Linked DNA regions of Homo sapiens: regions 1, 2, 4 and 5 are each linked to region 3. Evidence: fine-mapped expression QTL. A gene starts in region 3. Each other region holds a variant in brackets. All regions are shown on one strand. Distances are from middle to middle.

Region 1 (5,176 bases), 110 kb after region 3:
TCTGCTCAGACTATCTGGAAAAACCAATGTCCCTGGAGTGTGGATGCACCGTCTGCCTCAAGTGCATCAATTCGCTGCAGAAGGAGCCCCATGGGGAGGATCTGCTTTGCTGTTGCTGTTCCATGGTCTCTCAGAGGAACAAAATCAGGCCCAATCGGCAGCTAGAGAGGCTGGTTTCCCACATCAAGGAACTGGAGCCCAAGCTGAAGAAGATTCTACAGATGAACCCAAGGATGCGGAAGTTCCAAGGTAAGGAATCTGTATACCCTGCCCCCTTCCCAAGACCAGACCAGGAAAAATCATCTGTGCAGTTGGCCCCTCATTCCACATGGGGATTAGCTGCTGTCTGGCACCTAAAATTGAGATGCTTCATCATCACATTCTCAGCCCTGACAACACATAGAATCACCTGGTGATGTCAAAAACAAAAACAAACAAAAACCCGATGTCTATGTCATGGGTTAGACAAGGGATTCTCTAAACTTAGTGTGCTCAGATTACCTGGGGATCTTGTTAAAATGCAGATGCTGAACTGGGAAGTCTCAGGATTGATCCCGCTGGCTTGGGGACTTTGCTGAGTAGCAAAAACATAGAGCAACTGAATTTGAATTTCTCTCTAGCAAAGGTTCCCATGAATCTGACATTAAGATGGGCCTGGTATTTCTAATGCACAGTGAATATTGGCACCCATTGTACCAAACAACCTCACCCCAGGGTTGAGAAGAGTTGGGAATGGAGCACCTATGGTGTTTGTTTCTGTGAGTGGGGAGAGTTGCAGATATTGGTCTCCTCATCCATGCGCCATGGGCTCCAACAGTGGTCCTGGCTACAGAAAATACTATCACTCTCCATAACTCTGGGGAAAAGGGACATTTAAATGAAAAGGTTATGGTCAGCCTGGGCAAAGAATTACACCTATAAATGGTGGTGGGCCCCTATAATGTCCCTGACACTGGTAGCTTCTGCCCTGACACCCATGATCTCTACTCATCCATCTACCCATACCTGACTGTCTCTCTGCTGAACTATGGAGGACAGAGATTCACCCTGTCCAAGTCATGTTTGGAACCCTCTTCCTCCTTCCTTGTCCATGTCCATTCCCTAATTCACCATTAAATAGCAATCAATCCCTAGTCTTGACTAGGGTAGTCTTACTGTGATCTATAAAATCTATATTAGTGATCATATCAGTTTTTTGACTTGAAGGATAATATATTTTGTAGATTTTTTTTTTTCAGAATGTTCTGGACAATTAATTTTCTCTAGGCCAGATCACACTGCCTCCTCCATGAGAATTGGCGGCTTCACCTGTCAGTCACATACCCAATGCCTTAAATTATTGACCTTTGTATTTTCTGCCCTTATTCTCTACAATCAGTCAGTTATGACAGACAACTTTCAAATACCTTTCTCTTGGCTCCAAAATTTACCATTGTTTTGCTTAAGGTCTCACCTTCCATGTAGGATAGAAAACATTCTTTCATCTAAAAGGTCCCCCTCCTCCACCTGGCCTTAGAGCCTCCTAATGTCCAGGACCAGCATCTCTGTCATCACATTGTCAGCTGCAGAGATACCCTATCTGCTGTCAGAACTGTGCACAATTAATTTGTTTACAAACATGGAAAACAAAAGCCTGGAATCATGCTCTATATACTGAATTGGAGCAATAAAATGTGGAAGCAGAAACATATTTAATATTGACCACTTGCATTGTCTTAATTATCATTTATTTGTTCACACATCAAGGTGGTAGAAAGGGGGGCATGGTGTCTGCCTTCAGAGACCCTCCACTCTAAATGAAGAAAAGTTCAGTGAAGCAAACACGTGACGTAAAGTAAAATAAGAATTGCTACTGTGAATAAGAGTCACGTATTGCCACAAAGCATACCTATGAAAATTTGAAATAGGGAAGTTTCCTCATGAAAAGTTTTGATTTTGGAGGAAGAAACAGAATTAAAGAAACTAAAGTCAGGAGATATTTGGGCCTTTGAAGTAGAAGAGAGGCATGGGGTTGGCTTCTGTCCACTTGCTGAGCAACTTGTTTTCCTTTTCACAGTGGATATGACCTTGGATGCCGACACAGCCAACAACTTCCTCCTCATTTCTGACGACCTCAGGAGCGTCCGAAGTGGGCTCATCACACAGAATCGGCAAGACCTTGCCGAGAGATTTGACGTGTCCGTTTGCATCCTGGGCTCCCCTCGCTTTACCTGTGGCCGCCACT[A/G]CTGGGAGGTGGACGTGGGAACAAGCACAGAATGGGACCTGGGAGTCTGCAGAGAATCTGTTCACTGCAAAGGGAAGATCCAGCTGACCACAGAGCTTGGATTCTGGACTGTGAGTTTGAGGGATGGAAGCCGCCTCTCTGCCAGCACGGTGCCGCTGACTTTCCTCTTAGTAGACCGCAAGTTACAGCGAGTGGGGATTTTTCTGGATATGGGCATGCAGAACGTTTCCTTTTTTGATGCTGAAAGTGGTTCCCATGTCTATACATTCAGGAGCGTCTCTGCTGAGGAGCCACTGCGCCCATTTTTGGCTCCTTCAATTCCACCTAATGGTGATCAAGGTGTCTTGAGCATCTGTCCTTTGATGAACTCAGGCACTACTGATGCTCCAGTCCGTCCTGGGGAGGCCAAATAAGCCGCCACTGCAAAAAAAAACAGGGTCAGAAAATTACTTGGGTGGGTAGACTTAGGAATTTTCTACTTGGTAAAAGCATTATACAGTCATAGGAGAAAGATATGGGACATTTCTATAATCTATATTCTAATTTGATTCGATTATTGAGTCGTAAGTATTAATTATTGCCACCATCCAACTCATTGAGTCTTATGGTTCACATCTTGTTTCCTATAGAAATGTTCTGTATTCTCGGATCAATTTCCAAATGCTTTACTTTTTCATTTCTGTAAGTTCAAATCAATGTTTAAATTATAGAAGTTATGAGGTAAATAAACATTTGGATATCACCTAATGCATCATGTGATTTTCTAAATGATAGGAGTGCAATAGATTTTATTCATAGTAAAAACATGAGTGTGTGTGTATGTGTGTGCGTGTGTGGGTGTGTGTGTATTTGAACGGAGAGCTGGATAAATGCCTATGTCCTATCCAGAACTGAAAAGTTATCGCCATCATTGCTCAGTGTGGGTAACATTTTCCTGGATGTGTGTTCCTGCATTAATGAAAATTCCCCCCAATTAGTTATTGCAATTATTAATTGTAATTGCAATAAAATTAATAAATTCATTTTATTAATTTATTAAATTAATAAATTAATTAATAATTAAATCTTTATGCAGAGATTAATAAATATGCAGGCTAACAAAGCAAAAAAAGATAACACACATTACTAATATCAGAAATAAAAGAGGGGCCATATCTACCAAACTGTTGGTCATTAAAAGGATAATCAAGGACTATTATGAATGACTCTATTCCCACAGTTTGATAACTAGGTGAAATGTATCAATTCCTTGAGAGACATAATCTTCTCAAGGTCACACTAGGAACACAGACAATCTGAACAAGCCTCTGCCTATTAAGTGAATTAACATTAAGAACATTCCAAAAAAGACAACACCAGAACCAAATGATTTCTCTTACGAAATCCACCAAATTCTTACGAATCCCAACATATTTTCACAATATAATCCGAAAATTGCGCTCTTAGGTACGTACTCAGTTGAGATGAAAAGTTACGTCCACACAAAGCCTGCACAGGAATGTTTACAGCAGCTTTATCTATAACCACCCAAACTAGAAGCGAGCAAGATGTTTAAGAGGTGAATGAAAAAACAACCATCTATAAAACACAATATTATTCTGTGATTTAAAGGAGTTCTCCATCAAAGCATAGAAAAGACAATGGCATGTATCAGAAAGACTGTGGGGGCATGCATTCATGTGGATGAGACCACACAGGCAGCAGAGCAGGGTGACTTTAAGTATATTGATGAGTGAAGTAAGTTCAGCTGAAAAAGCTACATAATATTGGGCTGGTGCAAAAGTAATTGTGGTTTTTGCCAGTTGAAGAATGGAAAAACCGCAATTACTTTGCACCAATCTAATATATGACTCCAACTGTATGACATTCTGGAAAAGGCAAAACAAAGGGGATGGTAAAAATACCAATAGTTGGCAAGGTTTCTGGAGAAAGAGGACAGAGATTCATAAGTAAAGAAGAGGGAATTTTTGGAGCGGTGAGAGTATTCCTTACGAGATCGAAATGGTAAACATAACAGTAAATATTTCAAAATTCATAGAAATGTGTAACAGGAAAAAGAACACTATGAGAATGACAGACTTTAGGTACTAATGTATCAATATTTGCCCATTACTTTTAGCAAATATAACACAGTAATGTAAGATATGAATATTAGGTGGAATTATAAGGTAGGGTGAGAGAATAGAATGATGTGGGAACTTTGTGTATTACATGCTAGATTTTTATGTCAATCTAAAACTCCCTTGGTTAAACATTCAGTTTTAAAATTATAGCTCCACTGTTTCAGGGAGATCACAATAATGTTCAACAATTGAGTAACGTCTAGAGATTAGTTTGAAAGATTGTCTTACTATTAAATGTGAATCAAAATTGACTTTTAAATGTATATTTAATTTTGTGATTTCAGCAATACCTCTTGATTAGGCAAATAAAAATTTTGGCACATTTAAACATATGGCTTAACCTCCTCTATAGCTTCTTCTAACATATGGGACACTGAATACAATCCACAATTGTTATTCTTAAATCAACTTAATAAATTTCCACGGTACCTTCATGTGAGTGCACCCGGTGGTTTGCCCAGAGTCCAGGTTGTGTCATGTGCCTCTTGGTGTAGAGGCTATATCTTCTTAAAATTTCTATCAGAGAAGAGCCTGGTTAATCTTTTTGCAATGCAGAGAACTAATGACATGTTACTGACAGAAGACCAGAGGGAGAATTGTGATAATTGGTTCTAACTTCTGATCCCATTGTTTACTGGCTTCCAAGCAGAGCCATCTGAATCAAAGTTAGGTCTCAGGAAGATCGTGGAGTTCAGTGAGCACTTTATACATGGATTAGAAAGACTGCGTGGGCGATGGCTTCACATAGGTGAGACGATACAGAAAGGCAGAGGGCTGGTGTAGTGAGGGACCTGCACCCCAATCCCACTAGAGCCACGTAGACCTGGGA
Region 2 (5,000 bases), 87 kb after region 3:
ATTGGTGTTGTCATCGTATTACTAAAAAGATTACATGCAGTATAAATGCCCCGCTGTAGGGAAATGACTGCATGAATCCCACACATGGAATCCGGACAACTCGGTGGCCGCTGAAATGGTATTTAGAAAGGTCAGGTAAAATCGCAGGGTCATCGCTGATTCAATAGGAGAATAAAATCAAGGCACATCATTAGAGACGCGCAAAAGCAGGTGTGCATTAGAAGGGAGAAAAACGCAAAGCAGTCGTAGCTGCGTGTGAGTGGGATCCGTAGCGGCTTTTCTTTTCCTATTTTTTACTCTTCAAATAATGGTCGCAACAATCATCACAGTTAGCATTTCCTGAGGCATCTGCCACAGGCCGGGCTCTGTTCCAGTCCTTACAATCATCTCACAACCTAAAGGCTACTTGTGTCCATTGTACTGATGGGAACACTGAGACTCAGGAGAGCTACTGGCTTACCTGCAGTTGCCCACTGGCCCGTAGACAGGATCTGAACTCAGCTCTGATTCGAAGACTACGCAGCTCACCCCTCTGCGGGTTTGCTAGAGTAGAGTACAGCTAGGAGGTGTTCGACGTAAACTCATGAAAACTAAGCGTGGGTGTTGTGTTTTTACCTTCTGTTCCGCCGGGCCCTCCTCTTGTGGGGAGTGGTTTGCAGAGGGAGGTGGGGAGCCACCAGGTGGAAGAGATGAGTACACCTGCCGCCTCTGGAAAGATTCAAGGCTGCGAAAGACCTTCACAAATGGTGCAGGGGAAAAGACAAACCCCGAGAGCAAAACCAACCATGCACCCCAACAAAGACTGGCACCCTCACCTCGTTTAAACCCCTGCCTGGTAGCCCACGAAGGGGCCAATGGCAGATCAGAAGCCAGGCTGAGTTTCAGGAGGCTCCTGGACCCAGACCAGGACTTGTTTCACTGACACCTGCGGGCCAGATCTCAGGTGCTTTCGGGGACCCCCGAGGTTCTGCCCTGGGGATGGGTGAGACCTGCCTTGCACAGAGAACCCACAACCACAGGGCAGCTATGCACCCAGCATAGAGTGGCATCATCTCAGGTTTAGCTCTCACAGGGAGAGAAGTAAAGGCAGAGAAGTTGCTCTTCCCAGTAGAAGGATGTCGGCTTTGGAGTTCACCAGACCTTAGTTCCAATTCCAGCTCAGCTGCTGTGCGTTTCCCAGGAATCTCTCTCCGAGCCTCCTCGGTGTCTCCTTCATAAAATGAGGCTCGGGATGGCCAAGCTGCAGTGCAGCTGGGGAGGCTAAATGGCACAATTTGTTACAGCTGCTTAGCTCAGTGAGCCCTCAACAAATGGGAGCTACTGTTACTAACGGTACTAATGCAGTTCATTGATCGGACACTGTCTAGGTGCCTTCTGTGCACAAGGCACTGGGCAGGAAGATTCATTCATGCAACATGGATGTACTGAGCACCTACTATGTGTCAGGCACTGTTCTATATGCTGGGGTCACAGCTGAGCACAAGAAACACCAATCCCAACTCTCTTGGGGTTTCCATCCAGCAGAGGAGACAGGCACAAAGCCACAAAGCAAACGTTATGTCAGGCGGCGACGCACGTGACAAGGCAGCTGAAGGAGGACAAAGGGAGAGTGACGGGAGTAGGTGGCTGCTTCTATTTTGTAAACCTTGGTCAGAGAAGGCCCCTTTGATCGGGTGACCCTGAGCAGGGGCTGTGGAAGGGAGGCATGAGCCCTGCTGGTATCCCGGAGGGGAGAGGTCTGGTTGGAGGAACAGCAGCGGGGCTGGTGCGGCTGCAGCCAAGTGCCAGTGTCGGGAGATGAGGACAGAGGGACAGTGGGGTGGGGTGGGGTCAGATCATGTTGTTGGCCAAGGAAAGCATTTTGATTCCTAAGTGCAAAGGAGACCATCGGCACGTCTTGACTTAATGTTTTTAAAAGATCGCCCTGCCACTGTCGGGGACACAGGCTGGCATCAGGGAGACATGCGGAGGCGGCTGCCTCCATCCTGGCCAAAGACGACGGACAAGGAGGGCTGGTCTCAGTGGAGGGGTGGGTGCGGATGGATTCTGGCTTCATTTTCAAGGTATTGCTGATGGAACACGTGAAACAGGAAAGAAAGAGAGGAGCCAATGAGATGGTAGGAGGCAGCGGGGACGTGGATGTGCCAGTCTCCCACGTCTATGGGGTATCCAAGAGCTGCTCTTGAGGACTCAGGCTCTGCAATGAACAGCTAGTCTGGATTCAAGGGAGAGAGACCAGGGGAGAAAGACTGGGAGGTGGACAGGATTGGAGCTGTGGGTCTGGGTGGGGGTCCCCAGGGAGTGGGTGGAGATGAGAGAGAAGTTAAAGGGAAGAGCCCTGGTCTCTAAGATCAGGGAGATGAGGATGGAGCCGCAAAGAGGAGCAAGAAGGGCGGCCGTGAGGGGCCAGGAGCCTGTGGGGCAGAGGACCCAGGGCTCCCCAGTTCCCCTCAGCCCCTCCCTCCTCCGAGGCTCTGCCTATGCTGCCCTCTCTGCCGGGATGACCTTTCCCCACTTTGGTGAACTCCTAGCTACTCATCCACTGAAACTCTTTGTGTTGGCTCCTCCTCCCCTGGCTGACCAGTGCTTAGTCCAGTGGACCGTGAATCCTGGGACAGCAGAGCACTGTCTTCAACAGAGCCGTGAACAGCGGGGAAGGCTCACGGACGTGACGCCGGAGAGCATCCTTCAAAACCTACCAAATGCTTCTTGCCACAACTGAGTAATTCTGAAGTCCTATCCGTGGCCTAAATGGCCCCTTATGTTCTGCCCCTGCCAACCTCTTCATTTCCTACACTTCTTCTGCTAATGCACTCTGCCTAACGCTGCCTTTCTTGCTGTTCTCCAAATACACCCAGCGTGTTTTCAACTCATGCCCTTTTTACATTTCACTCCCTCCACCTGAGTGAACCATGAAACTATGTGAGTAAAGAGCATATTCAGGTCTCTGCTTAAATTGCCTCTCGTTAGAGAGATCTCCCTGGATC[G/A]CTTCATTTTCTCCCCGACATTTAACACTACTTGAAATTTTATTGTTATTACAAAAGCATTTTATTTTCTTTGTCTCCCCAGGCAGACCGTAAGCTCTGTTCACCAATGTATCACCAGTGGCTAGTACAGTCCCTGGTATATGATACAAACTCAAACCCTATGTGCTAAATAAATGGTAGCAGGAATTAGCATAAAATAAAACTGAAAATGGCTAATGCTACACAAATGGCTAATGCTACACATTATAACTAAAACATGAAGTTTGCTTTAGATGTAAGAACTGACTTGAGAACCTCTTCCTTTTGATTTCAAAGAACACAAAAAAATTTGACCCAGGAAAAATTAGACCTGGTAGAAACAACACCAAGTAACATTGTAGAAGCCTAAAACCACACAGAATAAAATCTGTAACTAATAATGATGGAAGAAGCAAATCTTGACAATAATCAAGATTTGTAATAACTAATCTATGTGAATGAGACCTGGTAGATATAACTATAGAGAGAAAAAAACCACTAGCAGGAGCTGAAATCCACAGACTTTAAGATAAACAAAAACAACCCAAAATTTCTTTGTGAAAGTTAATAATCTTAATAAATTAAAAATCAAAATAGAAGTACTTAGAATTTACTTCTACTTCATATAAAATTAATTTAAAAATTAAGCTTATTTAAGCAATACTTAGAAGTAATTTACTTCTACTTCATATGAAATTAATTTAAAATTAAGCTTATTTAATAGTGTCCACTGGAAAATACTTTCCCAATAAAAGTTATTCAATATTATAATAATTCTGATTCAAATCTGGATTCCCAAACATGCCAGCTAACATTCTGGAGAGGAAAACACCCATCAGAACAAAATGGCATATTCAAAATTAGAGTCAAAAAATATTCACTTCAATTAATACAGAGCATGAGAAAACTAGCTTTTTGGCTGCTAGATCACATTGTTGACAACTGCTATTTCCAAGTTTTGTCTTTTTTCCCCCAATCCCTGCCATGTAGCCATGGCTCCTGTACAGTTGAGTATTTAATCAAACACAGAACTGAAAAAATCATCCCTTTCAGATCTTACATGGTTGGTTGTTGAATACTTCTGTAATCCTAAAACTTGTTTGTCTTTCTCAGCGGCCTTCTAATACTCTCTCATGCTTTGCTGCATTCTGAAGGTGACAAAGGTCTTTATGACCATGTCATCTCAAACTGTGAAATAAACTGGTCACAACTGTGACACTTTTGGCAGGTGGTTTCACACCCCCACACCTTCCTTTTTCCTAACCATCTTCCAGTTTAGAATGAATGTGTGCCACGGTGTGTTCTGGCCATAGAGACATAGTCAGAAATCTGCTAGATGGGGCCTTTGGGGAAGACACTGCTAACCTGACAGAAAAGGACAATCAGCTGACATATCTCCTTGCCTTTTTCCTCCTTAGTCCTTTTCCCTTGTTCCTATCTGGATGGCAGATGAGATATGATGGCAGATGGAGGCATGATGAGAAAAACAACACGGTAAAAGCAACACTCTAAGAATCTTCCATTTTAAGAAATGGAGAAAAGTAGGGTTGCTGATGGCATCACAGAGTTGTCGGCTGCCAACCTCCAGACTCTATGCTACATGAAAACATAAATCTCTATTTCTCTTAGCTACTGTTAGTTAGATTTTCATTGCTTACATCCATAAGCAGTCTTAACGGATAAACTATCAGCTAATCTTCATGCATAGCTACTACATTTTTGTGGTCTCTACCCAAACTTTTCAAGGCTCTGTTGATGAACCCAATTATCAAGTCTGAGGCAGCACTAGATAAATTATCAATTAGAAAAGCACATTTTAAGTCATGCAAAATAAAACAATGCTAATACAACTTTTCTACTTCACCTTTGTTCAATACACATTTTAAGGAGTGAGTCAGAAGAGAAGCAGAATCATTCCACTGGTTTGTTATATTGAACTCATCCCTGGCATTATAGATCTAATAAGTAAGTCTTTAGTGTATATCTCCACCCACA
Region 3 (5,000 bases):
TCTGTCTCAAAAAAAAAAAAAAAAAGAAAATAGACAGATGCTGAGATGTTTCAGTCACTACTCCTCAGAGCAGGAGTCAAGCAAACAATGGCCCCTGGGCTAATCCAGCCCACAGTCAGTTTCTGAATGGCCCACGAGCCAAGAATGTTTTTTTACATTTTTGCATTGTTAAATAATGGTAAACAATCTAAGTAAGCATAATATTTTGTGAAATGTGAAATTGTAAACTTGTGAAATTGTATGATTCAAATTTCATTGTCTGGAACACAGCCGTGCTCATTGGTTTTCCATATGGACTTGGGCTGCTTTTTGTCCTACAACAGCGGGGTTCTGTGGCTGCAATAGACTATATGTCTAGAAAACTCTAAAGTATTTACAATCTGGCCTTTTACAGAAAAGCTCGTTGGCCCCTGTCTTGGGGGAGCATTGGTCAATCTACTAAAATGCTCTGAGTTGAGCCTGTCCTTGGCCAAGCACTGCCAGATCTCCCATCAGCTCTTCTCCCTTTAATCATATGCAAAGACCCCAAGCTGGCTAGGAGGGAGTTTCTCTCCATCCTCCCAGCCACAGGACACTCTTTTCATTCATCCCCTCGCCATTACAGTGTCTGCTGTTCTAAAGACCCAGAGACCAAGAGAGGTCTCTTGAGTGGACGTAGATGAGCACCAGTCCTAGCAGAAGAGAATTGGGGTGTGGCTCTTCCCACTTTTTAAGGCCTCTGTAAAATCACTTTTTCTGCTCAGCTACATGGGGCCAGAGGATGGGATTGAGCTGGTTTTTGGCTTCAAGATCGCTTGAGCCTCCTTGCATGTTTCACTAAACAGTCCTAAAAATGCAATGTCTGATTGGATGTCCCAAATAAAATTCATTTCAAACTTCCAGTTGTTCTGCTTCAGTCACCCCAGCCAGGACAGTTGCCCATCTCCACTTCCCCTCATACCATTTAGAAAATGAGTCAGATCTGTGAAGGAAGCATTTGCTAAGCACCCACTGTATAATGTGATGCTGGGCTGACACTCTCCAGGTGCAGAGGGGAAGATACAGCCTCTGCTGCAGTGGGACCCTGGCTGAGGGGGTCACACATCAAAACCCCACAAGAACACCCACTGGGCAAGAATCAAGAGGCATCAGCATTAGCACCATCACAGGGAACACAACCAATAACTGCATGGGACATAGGGACCCATGGAGAGAGCCGGGAGGCTCCTCAGATGAGAAAGGGCTGAGGTGAGGCATTGAAAGAGGACAGCAGACAAGGGGAGGCCAATCCTAACAAGAGGGCCAGCATCAGCTCAGGACTGGCAACAAAGCAGGAATGCGCAGAGCTTGTAAGAAGCCAGGAGAAGACTCTTGATAAGGAGCAGAAGAAAAGAATATAAGGTGGGGCTGAGCTGGGGTCCTTCAGTGCCAGACTGAACCGGCTGTCATAATAGGTGACATATTGTAATGTCCTGGAATTACAGAGAGGAGCCATGAAGTCGGGGATTTAGGAAAGGAGCCCCAGCGAGTAGGCAACCAATGTACATCAGAAATGATCAACATTCCCAATGTTGTCTACATTCACTTTTTTTTTTTTGAGATGGAGTTTCATTCTTGTTGCCCAGGCTGGAGTGCAGTGGTGTGATCTAGGCTCACTGCAACCTCTGCCTCCCAGGTTCAAGTGATTATCCTGCCTCAGCCTCCTGAGTAGCTGGGATTACAGGCATACACACCACCACGTCCAGCTAATTTTTGTATTTTTAGTAGAGATGGTTTCACCATGTTAGTCAGGCTGGTCTCGAACTCCTGACCTCAGATGATCTGCCAGCCTTGGCCTCCCAAAGTGCTGGGATTACAGGCGTGAGACACCGCACCCAGCCTACATTCAGTTTTAAGCACACACACAGGAAATTTATCTCCAGAAAACTTCGATCCACTTACCGGCCACCAGGCCATATCACGACCAGCGAGGAAGAAGCCTCCTATAGTACCTCGGTTGGTCTTCAGCATCGCCTGAGCAGAAGGGAAGACAGGTGAGGGTCAAGCCCCAGCAAGTGCACCCAGACACCCCAGAGGCTCTGGCCAGGGTGCTGAGAGGGGTGACTTCAGCACTCCTACAGAGAGAAACATTTCGCTGGAAAGTGTTCTATAGCATCAAATTTTAAAGGACTTCAAAAACAGTCGCTTTGTAAAAACCCAGGGCTGGAAGAACTTAAAAAAATCATAATCCTTAACTTCTATCTTAACTGCTCTGATTATTCTCACTTATGAAAACCATGTGAGGTATCATTGAGCCATGCTTGCAATAAAATTTGCAGTCTCGGCCGGGCACGGTGGCTCACGCCTGTAATTCCAGCACTTTGGAGGGCCGAGGCGGGTGGATCACAAGGTCAAGAGATCGAGACCATCCTGGCCAACATGGTGAAACCCCGTCTCTACTAAAAATACAAAAAGTTAGCCGGGCGTGGTGGCGCATGCCTGTAGTCCCAGCTACTTGGGAGGCTGAGGCAGGAGAATGGCGTGAACCCAGGAGGCGGAGCTTGCAGTGAGCCAAGCAAGCGCCACTGCACTCCAGCCTGGACGACAGAGCAAGACTCCGTCTCAAAAAAAAAAAAAATTTGCAGTCTCAAATTTATTAAAATAAAAAAATTCAACATAAATGAAGAGTCCAACTCACTAAATCAGAAAGTGAGCAAACAACAAAAGAAAGCGAAAGAAATGCGATAATAAAAATACACTCTTTGTCCATTATGCCAGGTGTTGGGGATGCATAGTAAATCTGAAGGTCCCGGTGCTGGCTGTGTGCACACGATGGGGTTATTAGGAGAATACATTAGTTCATTGTAAGCGTTATTTATGCAACACACAAGAAAATGATTCTGATAACACAATGACATTTGTGAAAAGCTTTGTCACAACCACACCCCTTCCCCCCTTAAGATACCCCCTCCTAAACCTTGTGCCCACCCTAAAAGCCACTGGGATTCCACCTACCCACAGCCCAACAGCCATCACCACCAGAAAATAGATGACAATGACTGAGATGTCAGCAGCATTTCGGATGTGGTCAGACAATGGAGGTGGCTCTGGGGTCTCAGCTATGGTGCTGGGGCTAACCGTACTGGCCATGGCTGCAGGCAGTGCTATACCCATTCCACGCATGAGCCATCTTTATATAAGTTCTGGGTTAATGATCAGCCTCAGGCAGGTGGGGCGAGATATCAGAGCCAGCTCCTGGATATGGAGACCTTTAAACCTCTTCTCCAAAGCTGTGGCACCCCAGCCCTCCACCAGTGAGTGCTAGCCTAGGTAGAGTGTGAGAATGAGGGATGCAGGGCCAGAAATGAGGGGAGAATTTGAGGTGGAGCATGGGGCGTTCTCTGAGTGCAAAGACAGGGTCTTTAAAGAGATTTGCCCAGGTGGAGGGGGGATTTGAGAGAAATGAAGACAGACAAGGAGGGGAGAAGGACAGACTAGAAGGTACCAGAAACCAGCCAGGAGGGACCGAATGCAATGGTCCTTCAGAGAACAGATACAGTTTCTGACCAATGAGCTATATCCCTTGACAGTGAAGTGAATTATGCCTTTCGTGGATTCCAAAGTCCCACATTTCTCTGAAGTGGGTTTCATGTGCCACAAAAAGACATTGGTGGCCTGTATAGGAAAGGAAGTGGCTCTTCAAGCACCATATGTGGTGAGTTGAGGGCAGAGCTGTGGAGAGCGCTGGGTCAGAGGGTTGTACAAAGAGTGAATCAACCTGGAAGCATGTGATGGGGATCATGAGGACTCAGGAAACAAGACTCCTGGACTACAGCCAAGAAGAAGTTAGAAGTAAAGCCTATGCGGTGGCTGACACCTGTAATCCCAGCACTTTGGGAGGCCAAGGAGAGAGCATCACTTGAGGCCAGGAGTTCAAGACCAGCTTGGGCAACATAGGGAGTCTTTGTCTCTATAAAAATTAGCTGAGTGTGGTGATGCACACGTATGGTCCCAGCTACTTGGGAGGCTGAAGAGGGAGGATCACCTGTGACTGGGAGGTCAAAGCTATAGTGAGCCATGATCACGCCGCTGCACTCTAGCCTGGGCAACTGAGCAAGATCCTGTCTCAAAAACAAACAAAAAAAACAACAACAAAAAAACAAAACCAAAAACACACATGAAAAAACGGAAAGCCCAGAAATTCTTCTTTTATACTTCATTTTTTATTGTGGCAAAGCATACATAGCATAAAATTTACCATTTTAATCCCTTTTAAGTGTACAATTCATTGGCATTAAGTACATTTACAGTGTTATGCAGCCATTACCACTATCCATTTCCAGAACTTTTTCATCATCTCCAAACAGAAGTATGTACCCACTAAAAACTAACTCCCCATCCCTCCCTCTCTCCAGGCCCTGGTAACCTCTGTTATTCTTTCTTACTATATAAATTTGCCTATTCTAGGTACCTCATACAAATGAAATCATACAATATTTTCCTCTTTGGTTTATTTCACTTAGTATGACATTTTCAAGGTTCATCCATATTGTAGCATGTATCAGAATTTCCTTCCTTTTTAAGGCTGAATAATATTCCAATACTCATATATACCACATTTTGTTTATCCATTCAACTGTTGATGGGCATTCAGGTTCTTTCTATACTTGGCTATTATAAATAATGCTGCTGAGAACACTGGTGTGCAAGGATCTGTTTGAATCCCTACTTTCAATTCTTTTGAGTCTATATGTAGAAGTGGAATTGCATGTGATAATTCTGTGTTTAACTTTTTGTAGAACTGCCAAACTGTTGTTCACAGCAGCTGCACTATTTTACATTCTTTCCACAGTGCATAGGAGAGTTAATTTCTCCATATCCTCTTCAATACTTGTCATTTATGTTTTAATTATAGACAGGCTAGTAGGTATCAAGTGGGTATCACAATATAGTTTTGATTTACACTTCTAACACAATCACTAGTAGTGTTGATTTTTTCATGTGCTTATAGCCATTTGTGCATCTTCTTGGAGAGAGATATA
Region 4 (5,176 bases), 110 kb after region 3:
TCTGGGAGACAGAGCAAGACTCTGTCTCAAAAAAAAAAAAAAACAAAAAACCCTCCATAGCCACAGCCTGGAAACCTCTGCCCCAGGACTCTGCCCCAGGACTCTCATTCAAGGTTCACTCTGATCCCCCTTTCCCTCTGACTCCAGATGTCCCTTCCATTAACCCAATGGCTCTGCCTCTTCTCCCAATCCTTCACCAGTGAAAATGCCACTGATTCTCTCTCGTGAGCCCTCTGAAAGTCTTCTCATAAAATACCACTCTTCATCCTATTTTTTTAAGTCCACCTCTAGATCACTAACATTTGTTTTCAGATTTTGGGTTCCACATTCAGAGGAATGTTTCTGTCCTTCCACTTTCCAGTCAAGTCTATTATTGCAGGAGTGGAATCAAGATTCTCCTAAAATGATAAAGCACTATGGCTGTGTTTGCTGTGTATTCTCTGGAAGTGTGTGCCCAGGATTGCCAGTCTTTATTATTTGGTAGAAATAAAAGTAAGTCACATGGTCCTGATATTTACATTTTGAGTTTTAAAAATTTTTATATTGTTTTCATCAAAACTCACTTTAGATATTAATATGTTCATCTTGGTATTTTCTTCTAAATGCTATAAACCTGTGTTTCCCATTATTTGTTTCTCTTAGTGAGCTATATCCTTCTGTGAACCCCTGCTTGCTCTCAGAGGGATCCTAAATACAGAAATGGAGATTTGCATTACTGTTTGGAAAGATCTCATTTTCCGTTCTCAGAGCCTCCTATGTGCCTTAGAGACCACCGTGTCCCTGCTTTAACCCTATGTAATAGAAACAAATAAGATCTTTATTCTCAGAAAATTCAACAGTCTTCAGAGGAACCCACATTCTTACACAACTCTGTCATCCAGGTCTCAGGCAAAGCCCTCATAACTTGGCAAAATTTAAGGTATCACAACTTTACAAGCTTCTATTTGTTATTATAAAGATGTGCCCACTTTTAGTAGAGATTTTAGCAACAGTTGCCTAGTTAATAAAACATAGAAAGTTCTAGAAGAAAGCACATAAAGAACATACTATGTAAAATTTGACCTAAAAATGACCAATCTCACAGGGACACACAGAGCTGAACAACACACACGGGGCTATCGGATGGGGGACGGTGGGAGGAGGGAGGATCAGGAAAAATAACTAATGGGCGCTAGGCTTAAAACCCAGGTGACAAGATAATCTGCACAAGAAATCCCCATGACACAAGTTGACCTATGTAACAAACCTGCACATGCACCCCTGAACTTAACAGTTAAAAAAACTGGTGGGACAAAATGAGATACCATTTCACACCAGTCAGAACGGCTATTACTAAAAAGTCAAAAAACAGCAGATACTGGCAAAGTTGCAGAGAAAAGGGAGCACTTATATACTCTTAGAGACTGTGTAAATTAGTTCAACCATTGTGGAAAGTAGTGTGGTGATTCCTCAAAGAGCTAAAAACAGAAATGTCATTCAACCCAGCCATCCCATTACTGGTTATATGCCCAAAGAAATATAAATCATTGTACCCTAAAGACATCCACACATATGTTCACAGCAGCGCTATTCATAATAGCAAAGACCCAAATGCCCATCAATGACATACTGGATAAAGAAAATGTGGTACATATACACCATGGAATACTATGCAGCCATAAAAGAGAATGAGATGATGTCCTTTGCAGGAACATGGATGGAGCTGGGCGACAGAGTGAGCCTCCATCTCAAAAAAAAAAAAAAAAAAAATTGTGCCGGGCGCGGTGGCTCATGCTTGTAATCCCAGCACTTTGGGAAGCCAAGGCAGGTGGATCATGAGGTCAGGAGATCGAGACCATCCTGGCTAACACGGTGAAACCCCATCTCTACTAAAAATACAAAAAATTAGCCGGGCATGGTGGTGGGCGCCTGTAGTCCCAGCTACTTGGGAAGCTGAGGCAGAAGAATGGTGTGAACCCAGGAGGCGGAGCTTGCAGTGAGCCGAGATCGTGCCACTGCACTCCAGCTTGGGCAACAGAGCAAGACTCCGTCTCAAAAAATAAATAAATAAAAAATAAAATAAAAGTTAAAAAATAAATGACCCGTCTTATTGACTAACCTCACCACGGTCTTATGGATTCAATTAACCTGTTCAATTCTTTTTTGTGTTTACTCCATCAACTTCCTGTGTAACTGCACTCCACAAGGCACATAACCACACTCCACAAGGCACATAAAACCACTGAAGAGAGGAGGCAAATGAGGTCTTTTATCCTCCCCTTCAATTGTCTTACAAAGCTCATGCCTGAGTTTAGAGCATAAGTCATCAGTTTAGTC[A/C]TAAGTCTTATAACTTCCCAAATGAATGCTTTAACTGCAGCTACAGTACATATCATGTGTTGAGTAGCACTTCTCATGTGCTTTTAAGCAACTCTTTCAATATTGAGAGACAAGATTCAATACTAGGGAAATATTCTATGGTATTACATCATTAATTTTATGTTACAGAGACCATATATTGAAAATGTATAAATAATGAAGTCCAGTCTTACTTTCAATACTGTGTGTAAGTTCATTGAGTGTGCAGACCCCTTAAGCTTGCACTCACCTGTGTGTTAGACACACATTCACAAACACATCACACAGACCTACACATAGACACCTTCTGCCTTGGTGCACACAAATCCACCCCACCTAAAGTGAATATGCCTGTTTCCAGGGATTGCACATAGGTGACAAGAGTTTGTCACCTGAAAAACCAGTTTTAGTTCACCCCAAATTCTCGTTCTTTCCAGGTGTCTTGGATCATGGAGATGGTCTAGATGAAAGTCAGCAATTAAGTTCCACATTTCTTATACATACACTTTTTTTTTTTACACCTGGTGAATGATTCCAGAATACATACCATTTACTGTGTTCCTTGGGGTCACCTGCAATTAGAAGAAAGAAAACACTCTGAGGATGAGATCATACTGTGGGCTGTTTGCACAGGTCTTTCGTTCTCTTAGGGGCTCTTGGTAACCAAGATGGGAAAGAATGTTTAAGTCTAAAGCCCCAACATCTAGAGTAGAGTTCATCTGTAGAAAGCACAATAGCTTTTGTTGAAAAGTATCTTTGTTGGCCGTGCTCAGTGGCTCACGCCTGTAATCCCAGCACTTTGGCAAGCCGAGGGAGGTAGATCACGAGGTCAGGAGATCGAGACCATCCTGGCTAACATGGTGAAACCCTGTCTCTATTAAAAATACAAAAAAAAAAAAAAATTAGCCAGATGTGGTGGCGGGCACCTGTAGTCCCAGCTACTCAGGAGGCTGAGACAGGAGAATGGCGTGAACCCGGGAGGCGGAGCTTGCAGTGAGCCGAGATCGTACCACTGCACTCCAGCCTGGGCTACGCAGCAAGACTCCGTCTCAAAAAAAAAAAAAAATCTTTGTCAAGACCATTTTGAAGTAGCAGTTACAAAATACTTAATCTAAAGTGGAAAGCTTGTTGCAGAGGAAAGTGTCCCCTAACATGCTGTGTGTGACCCAGCCCTGCCAATTCCAGATGTCCTCTTCAATCAGGTGTCAGTGGGTGGGGTGCACCCCTCCATCCCCAAGGAAACATCATCTAACACCTATAACGCACCTGATCATTTTTCTCTATCTGATATCAATTGAAAAATGAAATAACCAAGAAAATTACACACATGTTAGGCAAAGACAGGCTACTTTACCTTGGTAACAGAGAAGGGGTCCTCACTTGCCCACTCTTTGGAATCCACCTTCCATTGATCTTCTGGGGGAACTGAAAGGACACAACATGACTGTCAGTTCATTGGTGGTGACATGAACAAAGGGCTAGAACTTATGGATGTGGTTGGTTAACAAGCATGAATTGAGCTTCTCCTGGGCCATCCTCTTCTATGGACCAAGGAAGGCAGAGAGACGGGCAGAAAGGAAATGAGAAATAGAGCCTTTGTCTTTCCAGGTAATAGCAGATGAAAGCGACACGAAATACTCAAACTTCAAATGAGCAACTACTAAAATGCATGCTAGAATTCAACCACAGAGTCCTGTCACTCCCTCAGCCCATTTTAAAGTCCAGCAGAACTGCCACTGACTCCTTGATATTGACCAACTCCCTTTCAACCTCCACAGACCCCCATCTGCTGCTGTAACATTTAACATCTGGGGTATAGGATTCAGCCCCTGTTTATGTGTAAATTTTTATTGAGGAACTAAATTCAATATCAGGTACCAGGGCTAATTATATTTACTCAATTCTTTGTTATAAATCAATTATTAAAAACTGGAAAATACTGAAATACATGTTAAAATATCCACTGTAAATCAAAGATCTTCCTTTTAGTCTTCCCTTCCTATCCCTTGTGTTTGCAATCATTGCATGAGGGGGCCTAGTTTCAGCCAGGTCTAGTTCACCTAGCCATATGAGGTCTAGTTTCAGCCCAAGCTACCCACAGTGAAGGAAGGCAGAGTGAGGAGATGACCCCATGTGAGCACCGAGGCTCTTTAACCCAGCTGTACAGGAGAGTTGCCACAAGGGTGACACCTGAGGCTAATTGTGAAGTGGTATCCTGTGTTCTGTGATTCTTGTGCCTTAGCCACCTGAGTAGCTGGAATTACAGGTGTGCACCACCACGCCCAGCTAATTTTGCATTTTTAGTAGAGATGGGGTTTCTCCATGTTGGTCAGGCTGGTCTTGAACTCCTGACCTCAGGTGATCTGCCTGCCTCGGCCTCCCAAAGTGCTGGGATTACAGGCATGAGCCACCGCGCCCAGCTGCCTTATTTATTCTTAACACATGTAAGTGCCTCTAACTTTCGATTGTTTCCAAGTCATGGAACGAACAACCTCCTTAGAAAGAACTCTGAAGGATAGGTCAGGAGAACTAAGTCACACAATCCATCAGAAACAGTATTAACAGTTTTTCAAAGTTACACTTTATATGCAAACTTGTACAATTATCATCTTATTATTTTTAAATGTATCTTTACATATATGTATGTGACCTACGTGTTTCCTGGTGTGAGTAAATCTGTATGTTCTTGGTTAATAGTGTTTACCGATTCATTTCACTTCTCTATCTTTGTATGTTGAAATATGAACTACTCTCTGGATGAGAAAAAATGATTACACTTGATTATATTTACCTTTGGAAAGGTAAGTGGTTTGGGTGATTGACTATAATTGTTATCTCTATC
Region 5 (5,176 bases), 170 kb after region 3:
TTAAAACTCCACAGCTTTAAAAACCATCCTGACTTGTCATGTCTCTTGGGATCAGTTTCTCCCTGTTATTTGGTCAAAATTTGATCTTAGAATGGGGAAAAAGAATGAAATACTAGTACTACTAGGAACAAATATTTCTGGATCAATGACTATATGCTGACTGTTGTGCTAAGTGATTTACATACATTATCTCATCCACCCATACAACAACCCTATGGAGGGGTGTTCTGTTTTGCTAATGAGGAAACTGATACTTAACGAGGTTAAGTAACTTGCTTAAGGTCACTAGGTAGCAAGTGGCAGAGGTAGAATTCAAATCCAGATATGCCTGACTCCAGAGACTGTGCTCTTAACTAGACATGCTCAAAGAGTTCAAGTGTATTATTAGAATTGCTAGTTTTTTACTTTCTTCACCATTTTCTCCCCTTGATTCCTTGATGCGGTGACAAAAGTGCTGTGTGTTTTTTTCTATTTCAGCACAACCAGTTCCAGTGTTTTCTCTTTCTTTTATCAATGCTGAATATTGAAAAAGGGCATGCTGCCTGTTTCAACTTAGCGTGACTCCATGCTTATGGGTTTCCTCTTCCAGGCAAGGGTATAAAGGTATTTATTTCCTAAATCTTAAGTGTTATTTTCTTTCTTCTTCTTCTTCTTCTTCTTCTTCTCCTCCTCCTCCTCCTCCTCCTCCTCCTCTTCTTCTTCTTCTCTTCTTCTTCTTCTTCTTCTTCTTCTTCTTCTTCTTCTTCTTCTTCTTCCTCTTCTTCTTCCTCTTCTTCTTCCTCTTCTTCTTCCTCTTCTTCTTCCTCTTCTTCTTCCTCTTCTTCTTCTTCTTCTTCTTCTTCTTCTTCTTCCTTTTTTTTTGAGACGGAGTTTTGCTCTTGTCGCCCAGGCTAGAGTGCAGTGGTGTGATCTCGGCTCACTGCAACCTCCGCTTCCTGCATTCAAGCGATTCTCCTGCCTCAGCCTCCAGAGTAGCTGGGATTACAGGCATGCACCACCATGCCCAGCTAATTTTTGTATTATTAGTAGAGATGGAGTTTCACCATGTTGGCCAGGCTGGTCTCGAACTCCTGACCTCAGATGATTCACCTGCCTCGGCCTCCCAAAGTGCTGAGATTATAGGCGTGAGCCACCACGCCTGGCCTTGCCTTATTTTCTAAGTCAAAGCTCTTCACTACATCAAAGGCAGTATACTGTGGTAAGTAAATACTCACTGCTTTGAAAGCGGACTCACCCAGGTTCAAGTTCTGGCTCAGCCATTCAATAGCTCTGTGACCTTCAGTAAGTTATTTAATCTCTACAAACTGTAAAATGGGGATAATAGTACCTACCTCTAGGACCGTTCATTTAATCTACTGACATTTATTGAGCACTGTGCCAGGCCCTGGAGACACAGAGTTGTAAGATTTAAAATGAAATAATAGAGGTGTTGGGCTTGGCACAGGACCTAGTAGATGACAAAGATCCAATAATAAACAATAGCCATGAATTATACAAAAAAGGACTATTTCTTAGCTATCCATGGGCAGGATACAGGGGAGCGAAGTGTATTCTGAATCAGGGGACTCTGGAAATGATCTTGTACGATTGAGCACCTCCTTGTCCTGGCTGAGGCTATCTCTAAATTTGAAATCATAGTCAAAGCCAACAGCTAAGAAATAGTCTTTTTTTGGTACAGTTCATGACTATTCTTTATTATTGGGCCTTTACCGTCTATTAGGTCCCGTGCCAAGCCCGGTGCCTCTGTCATTTCATTTAAACCTTACAACTCCGTGTCTCCAGGGCCTGGAACAGTGCACAATAATGGTCAATAGATTAAATGAATGGTCCTGGAGGTAGGTACTATTATTCCCGTTTTATGCTTTATGGAGATTAAATAACTTACACCCAAGATCACAGAGCTATTGAATGGCAACCACACACTTTACCTGTATTAACTCTCATACTTCTCACAACCTTCTCCTGAAGTAGTCTTTATTACACCATTTTACAGAGGAGGAAATGGAGTCCAAGAGAGGTTAAGAAACTCGCCTGAGATGCCAGAGCTAATTAGTGGCAGCACTGGGATCAGAACCAGACCAGCTAGTCTGACTCCAAAGCCTGTGATCCTACAGTCTGTCTAGACCACCAACACGGGGTTTGTCTCTGATTTCTGTATTTGCTGTCTATGCAGCCAGCCCCGAGCAGCTCCAGGAAGAGGCACATTCAGGCAGGGGATAGTTAGAGAGGCCATGTTGTTCTGGGGAGAGTAATTTGGAGCCCCCGTGTTCCCTGGTTCTTCTCAGGGATGTTCCACTGATCTCCACCCACTTGATCCTTTTCCTGCTGCATCTCTCTGATATCACCCAAGACCAAACCAGCTCATCTTGAAAAGCCTGGGGAGCCCAGGAGTGGAGGAGCCAGCTGGGGCAGCCTGCATGGGAGGCAGGGCTAGGGATCCTACTGCCAGAGCCCAGGGCTGTCATTTCAACACAGCCTTGGCTCCTCTGCAAAGTCTTGCCTCCTGGTTTGGCTGCTTTAAACCTGAGTGAGGCCCAGCCCACCTGCCTTGCCCCCAGCCTGCTCACTGCCTGAGGTTTGCTATAACACCCCATGCAGGAGACACCCTCACTTGTGCTTAGAAGCCCCCTGTGCTTGGTTTAATGCCTTGCCATCTCTATCTTAAAATTCTTGACCAGGCACGGTGGCTCACGCCTGTAATCCCAGCACTTTGGGAGGCCGAGGCGGGTGGATCACCTGAGGTCAGGAGTTCGAGACCAGCCTGGCCAACATGGCGAAACCCCGTCTCTACTAAAAATACAAAAATCAGCCATGTGTGGTGGCACACGCCTGTAATCCCAGCTACCCAGGAGGCTGAGGCAGGAGGATCACTGGAACCCGGGGTGCAGAAGCTCC[A/G]GTGAACCAAGATCGTGCCACTGCACTCCAGCCCTGGCAACAGAGCAAGACTCTGTCTGAAAAAAAAAAAAGAAAGAAAGAAAAAAGAAATTCTTAATCCTTTTGAAAAGAGGCTCTGCATTTTCATTTTGCAGTGGGCCCTGCAAATTATGTAGCCAGCCCTGCTCAGACCCAGCTAAGGCATCAGAGCACCAGAAGTCTGCCCAGCGGAGAATTTCCAGGAGACTGCTGGGCAACAGACAACAAGCCAGAGGTCCTAATTTCAGGGTTCATGTTCATGAGGTCAAAGAACTCTGTGGACTGTAGGAAGCCAAGAGAATGAATTCACACATTTCCGGGATGATGTAAATTTATCGGCTTAAAACAGTTTTTTCTATTACTCCCATAAATAAACATAACAGCCATTGAACGTGCTGTTGCTTACTAGTATTATAGAAACATTAGAGATAAGGCTCAGTTTGATTTAAGCAGAAAAGTGAACCTGGTCTCCATGCTTCTTAAAGTCTTTTGCACCTTCTTGCCACAACCCTGAAGTTGAATCATGATTAAATTCTTCCTTGAGATCCTGCCAGTAAACCAGACACCTGCTCAGATGCAAGTGTTGTTTCTACCTTCTCTAGGAACCTTCTGCCTCAGTTAGCAGCCCTGCCCCTGTGCCCCGCCCCGCATCACTCCCCATTTCCAGCCTTTCCTTTCCTCCTGGTTCTTTCCTCTTTGTTTCCCAACAGACTGAGCATCACGGTCCCGATGCTCAGGCAATGCTATCCAGATTCTCTCCTTCCTTCCGCTCGTGGCCGATCTCAGATGCTGCCAATTTCTCACCTTTGGTTCCTTCCCCCCTCACCCTCATGCTCTCTGGCTTTCATCCTCTGTATTAGAACTGCCAAATATCACACCTGTAATCCCAGCACTTTGGGAGGCCAAGGTGGGTTGATCACGAGGTCAAAAGATCAAGACCATCCTGGCCAACATGGTGAAACCCCGTCTCTACTAAAACTACAAAAATTAGCTGGGCGTGGTGGCGTGCGCCTGTAGTCCCACCTGCTCAGGAGGCTGAGGCAGGAGAATCACTTGAACCTGGGAGGCAGAGGTTGCAGTAAGCCCAGATCGTGCCACTGCACTCCAGCCTGGGTGACAGAGCGAGATTCTGTCTCAAAACAAAACAGAACAAAACAAAACAAAAAAGAACTGCCAGATAAAGATCACTCTTCATGGTTCAGAGTTTCATCAGCCTGATTCCCTGGAAATGGGGTCACCTCATGACTTCTGGAGGCCTGAGGCACTTTTGTCTTTGGGGACCTTTCTTCTGTTAAAAAAAATGAAAATTATATTTTATAACTATTTGATATAAAGATAAGTATGATCAAGTCTAAATTGTATTCATTTTTAAAAATTATTATTTTAAAATACATTAAAACGTGTGTGTGTGTGTGTGTGCGCGCGCGTGTGTGTGTGTGTGTGTGCTTTTGGACAGGGTCTTGCTCTGTCGCCCAGATTGAGATCATAGCTCACTGCAGCCTCGACTTCTTGGGCTCAGGCAATCCATTCACCTTGGCCTCCCAAAGTGCTGGGATTACAGGTGTGTGCCACCCTGCCCGGCCTCTCATGGGCTTTTAAAGTATTGTGGCTCTAGGCACTGTGCCTATTGTGCCTAAAGGAAGCTAATGAAGAAGTCAGGACTGCTTTGAAGGGCTTGGTAAATGCGAGTAAACCTTCGTAAAACCTTTTCTTTCTGGGAAACCATACTACTTTAAACAAACAAACAAACAAACAAAACATTGTATTTCTGGGCATGGTGGCTCACGCCTGTAATCCCAGCACTTTGGGAGGCCGAGGCCCCAGATCGCCTGAGGTCAGGAGTTTGAGACCAGCCTGGCCAACATGGTGAAACCCCATCTCTACTAAAAAATACAAAAATTAGCCAGGTGTGGTGGCAGGCGCCTGTAATCCCAGCTACTTGGCGGGCTGAGGCAGGAGAATCACTTGAACCCGGGAGGCGGAGGTTGTAGTGAGCCGAGATCGCACCCCTGCACTCCAGCCTGGGTGACAGAGTAACACTCCATCTCAAAAAAAAACAAAATTATATTCCCTTTGTTGGAAAAACAATATACTTACAAAGAAAATTTTAATGAAAAAAGAACCCTCTCATAATCCCATATCCTAATACAACTCTTCATTTTCAGTTTTGTGATTCACTTCCTTGTCCAGATGCAAAGCTATTTTCCTCTTCCGGATGCAAAGCTATTTTCCTCTTCCAGATGCAAAGCTATTTTATACAATT

Evidence for each region. PIP is the estimated chance that this variant, and not a neighbour inherited with it, causes the effect.
Region 1: its variant is the best candidate, but not a certain one, in a credible set for the expression of SLC5A4 in prefrontal cortex (CommonMind, PIP 0.61).
Region 2: its variant is the best candidate, but not a certain one, in a credible set for the expression of SLC5A4 in visceral fat (GTEx, PIP 0.86).
Region 4: its variant is the best candidate, but not a certain one, in a credible set for the expression of SLC5A4 in prefrontal cortex (BrainSeq, PIP 0.62).
Region 5: its variant is the best candidate, but not a certain one, in a credible set for the expression of SLC5A4 in tibial nerve (GTEx, PIP 0.69).

Annotation. Positions count from the first base shown.
Region 1 is chr22:32,358,196-32,363,371 of GRCh38, forward strand. It overlaps RFPL3 (ret finger protein like 3), which reads left to right. Exons shown (of 2, transcript NM_001098535.1): 1 at 1-249; 2 at 2,057-2,966. The coding sequence ends at 2,637. It overlaps RFPL3S (RFPL3 antisense), which reads right to left. Exons shown (of 5, transcript NR_104232.1): 5 at 1,711-2,644. Among named protein-coding and RNA genes, the nearest start is that of RFPL3, 2.9 kb to the left of the region's middle. The variant A/G (reference allele first, on the strand shown) is at 2,225.
Region 2 is chr22:32,338,947-32,343,946 of GRCh38, forward strand. LOC107985561 (a long non-coding RNA gene) reads right to left here. Exons shown (of 2, transcript XR_001755500.2): 1 at 4,066-5,000. It also overlaps a transcript of SLC5A4 not described here. Among named protein-coding and RNA genes, the nearest start is that of RFPL3, 16 kb to the right of the region's middle. The variant G/A (reference allele first, on the strand shown) is at 2,988.
Region 3 is chr22:32,252,222-32,257,221 of GRCh38, forward strand. SLC5A4 (solute carrier family 5 member 4) reads right to left here and starts at 3,126. Exons shown (of 15, transcript NM_014227.3): 1 at 2,974-3,126; 2 at 1,921-1,992. The coding sequence starts at 3,108. The region is part of intron 2 of SLC5A4-AS1 (SLC5A4 antisense RNA 1); the gene reads left to right.
Region 4 is chr22:32,364,809-32,369,984 of GRCh38, forward strand. It overlaps RFPL3S (RFPL3 antisense), which reads right to left. Exons shown (of 5, transcript NR_104232.1): 3 at 3,689-3,759; 4 at 2,882-2,906. Among named protein-coding and RNA genes, the nearest start is that of RFPL3S, 3.9 kb to the right of the region's middle. The variant A/C (reference allele first, on the strand shown) is at 2,317.
Region 5 is chr22:32,423,938-32,429,113 of GRCh38, forward strand. The region is part of intron 13 of BPIFC (BPI fold containing family C); the gene reads right to left. Among named protein-coding and RNA genes, the nearest start is that of RTCB, 14 kb to the left of the region's middle. The variant A/G (reference allele first, on the strand shown) is at 2,896.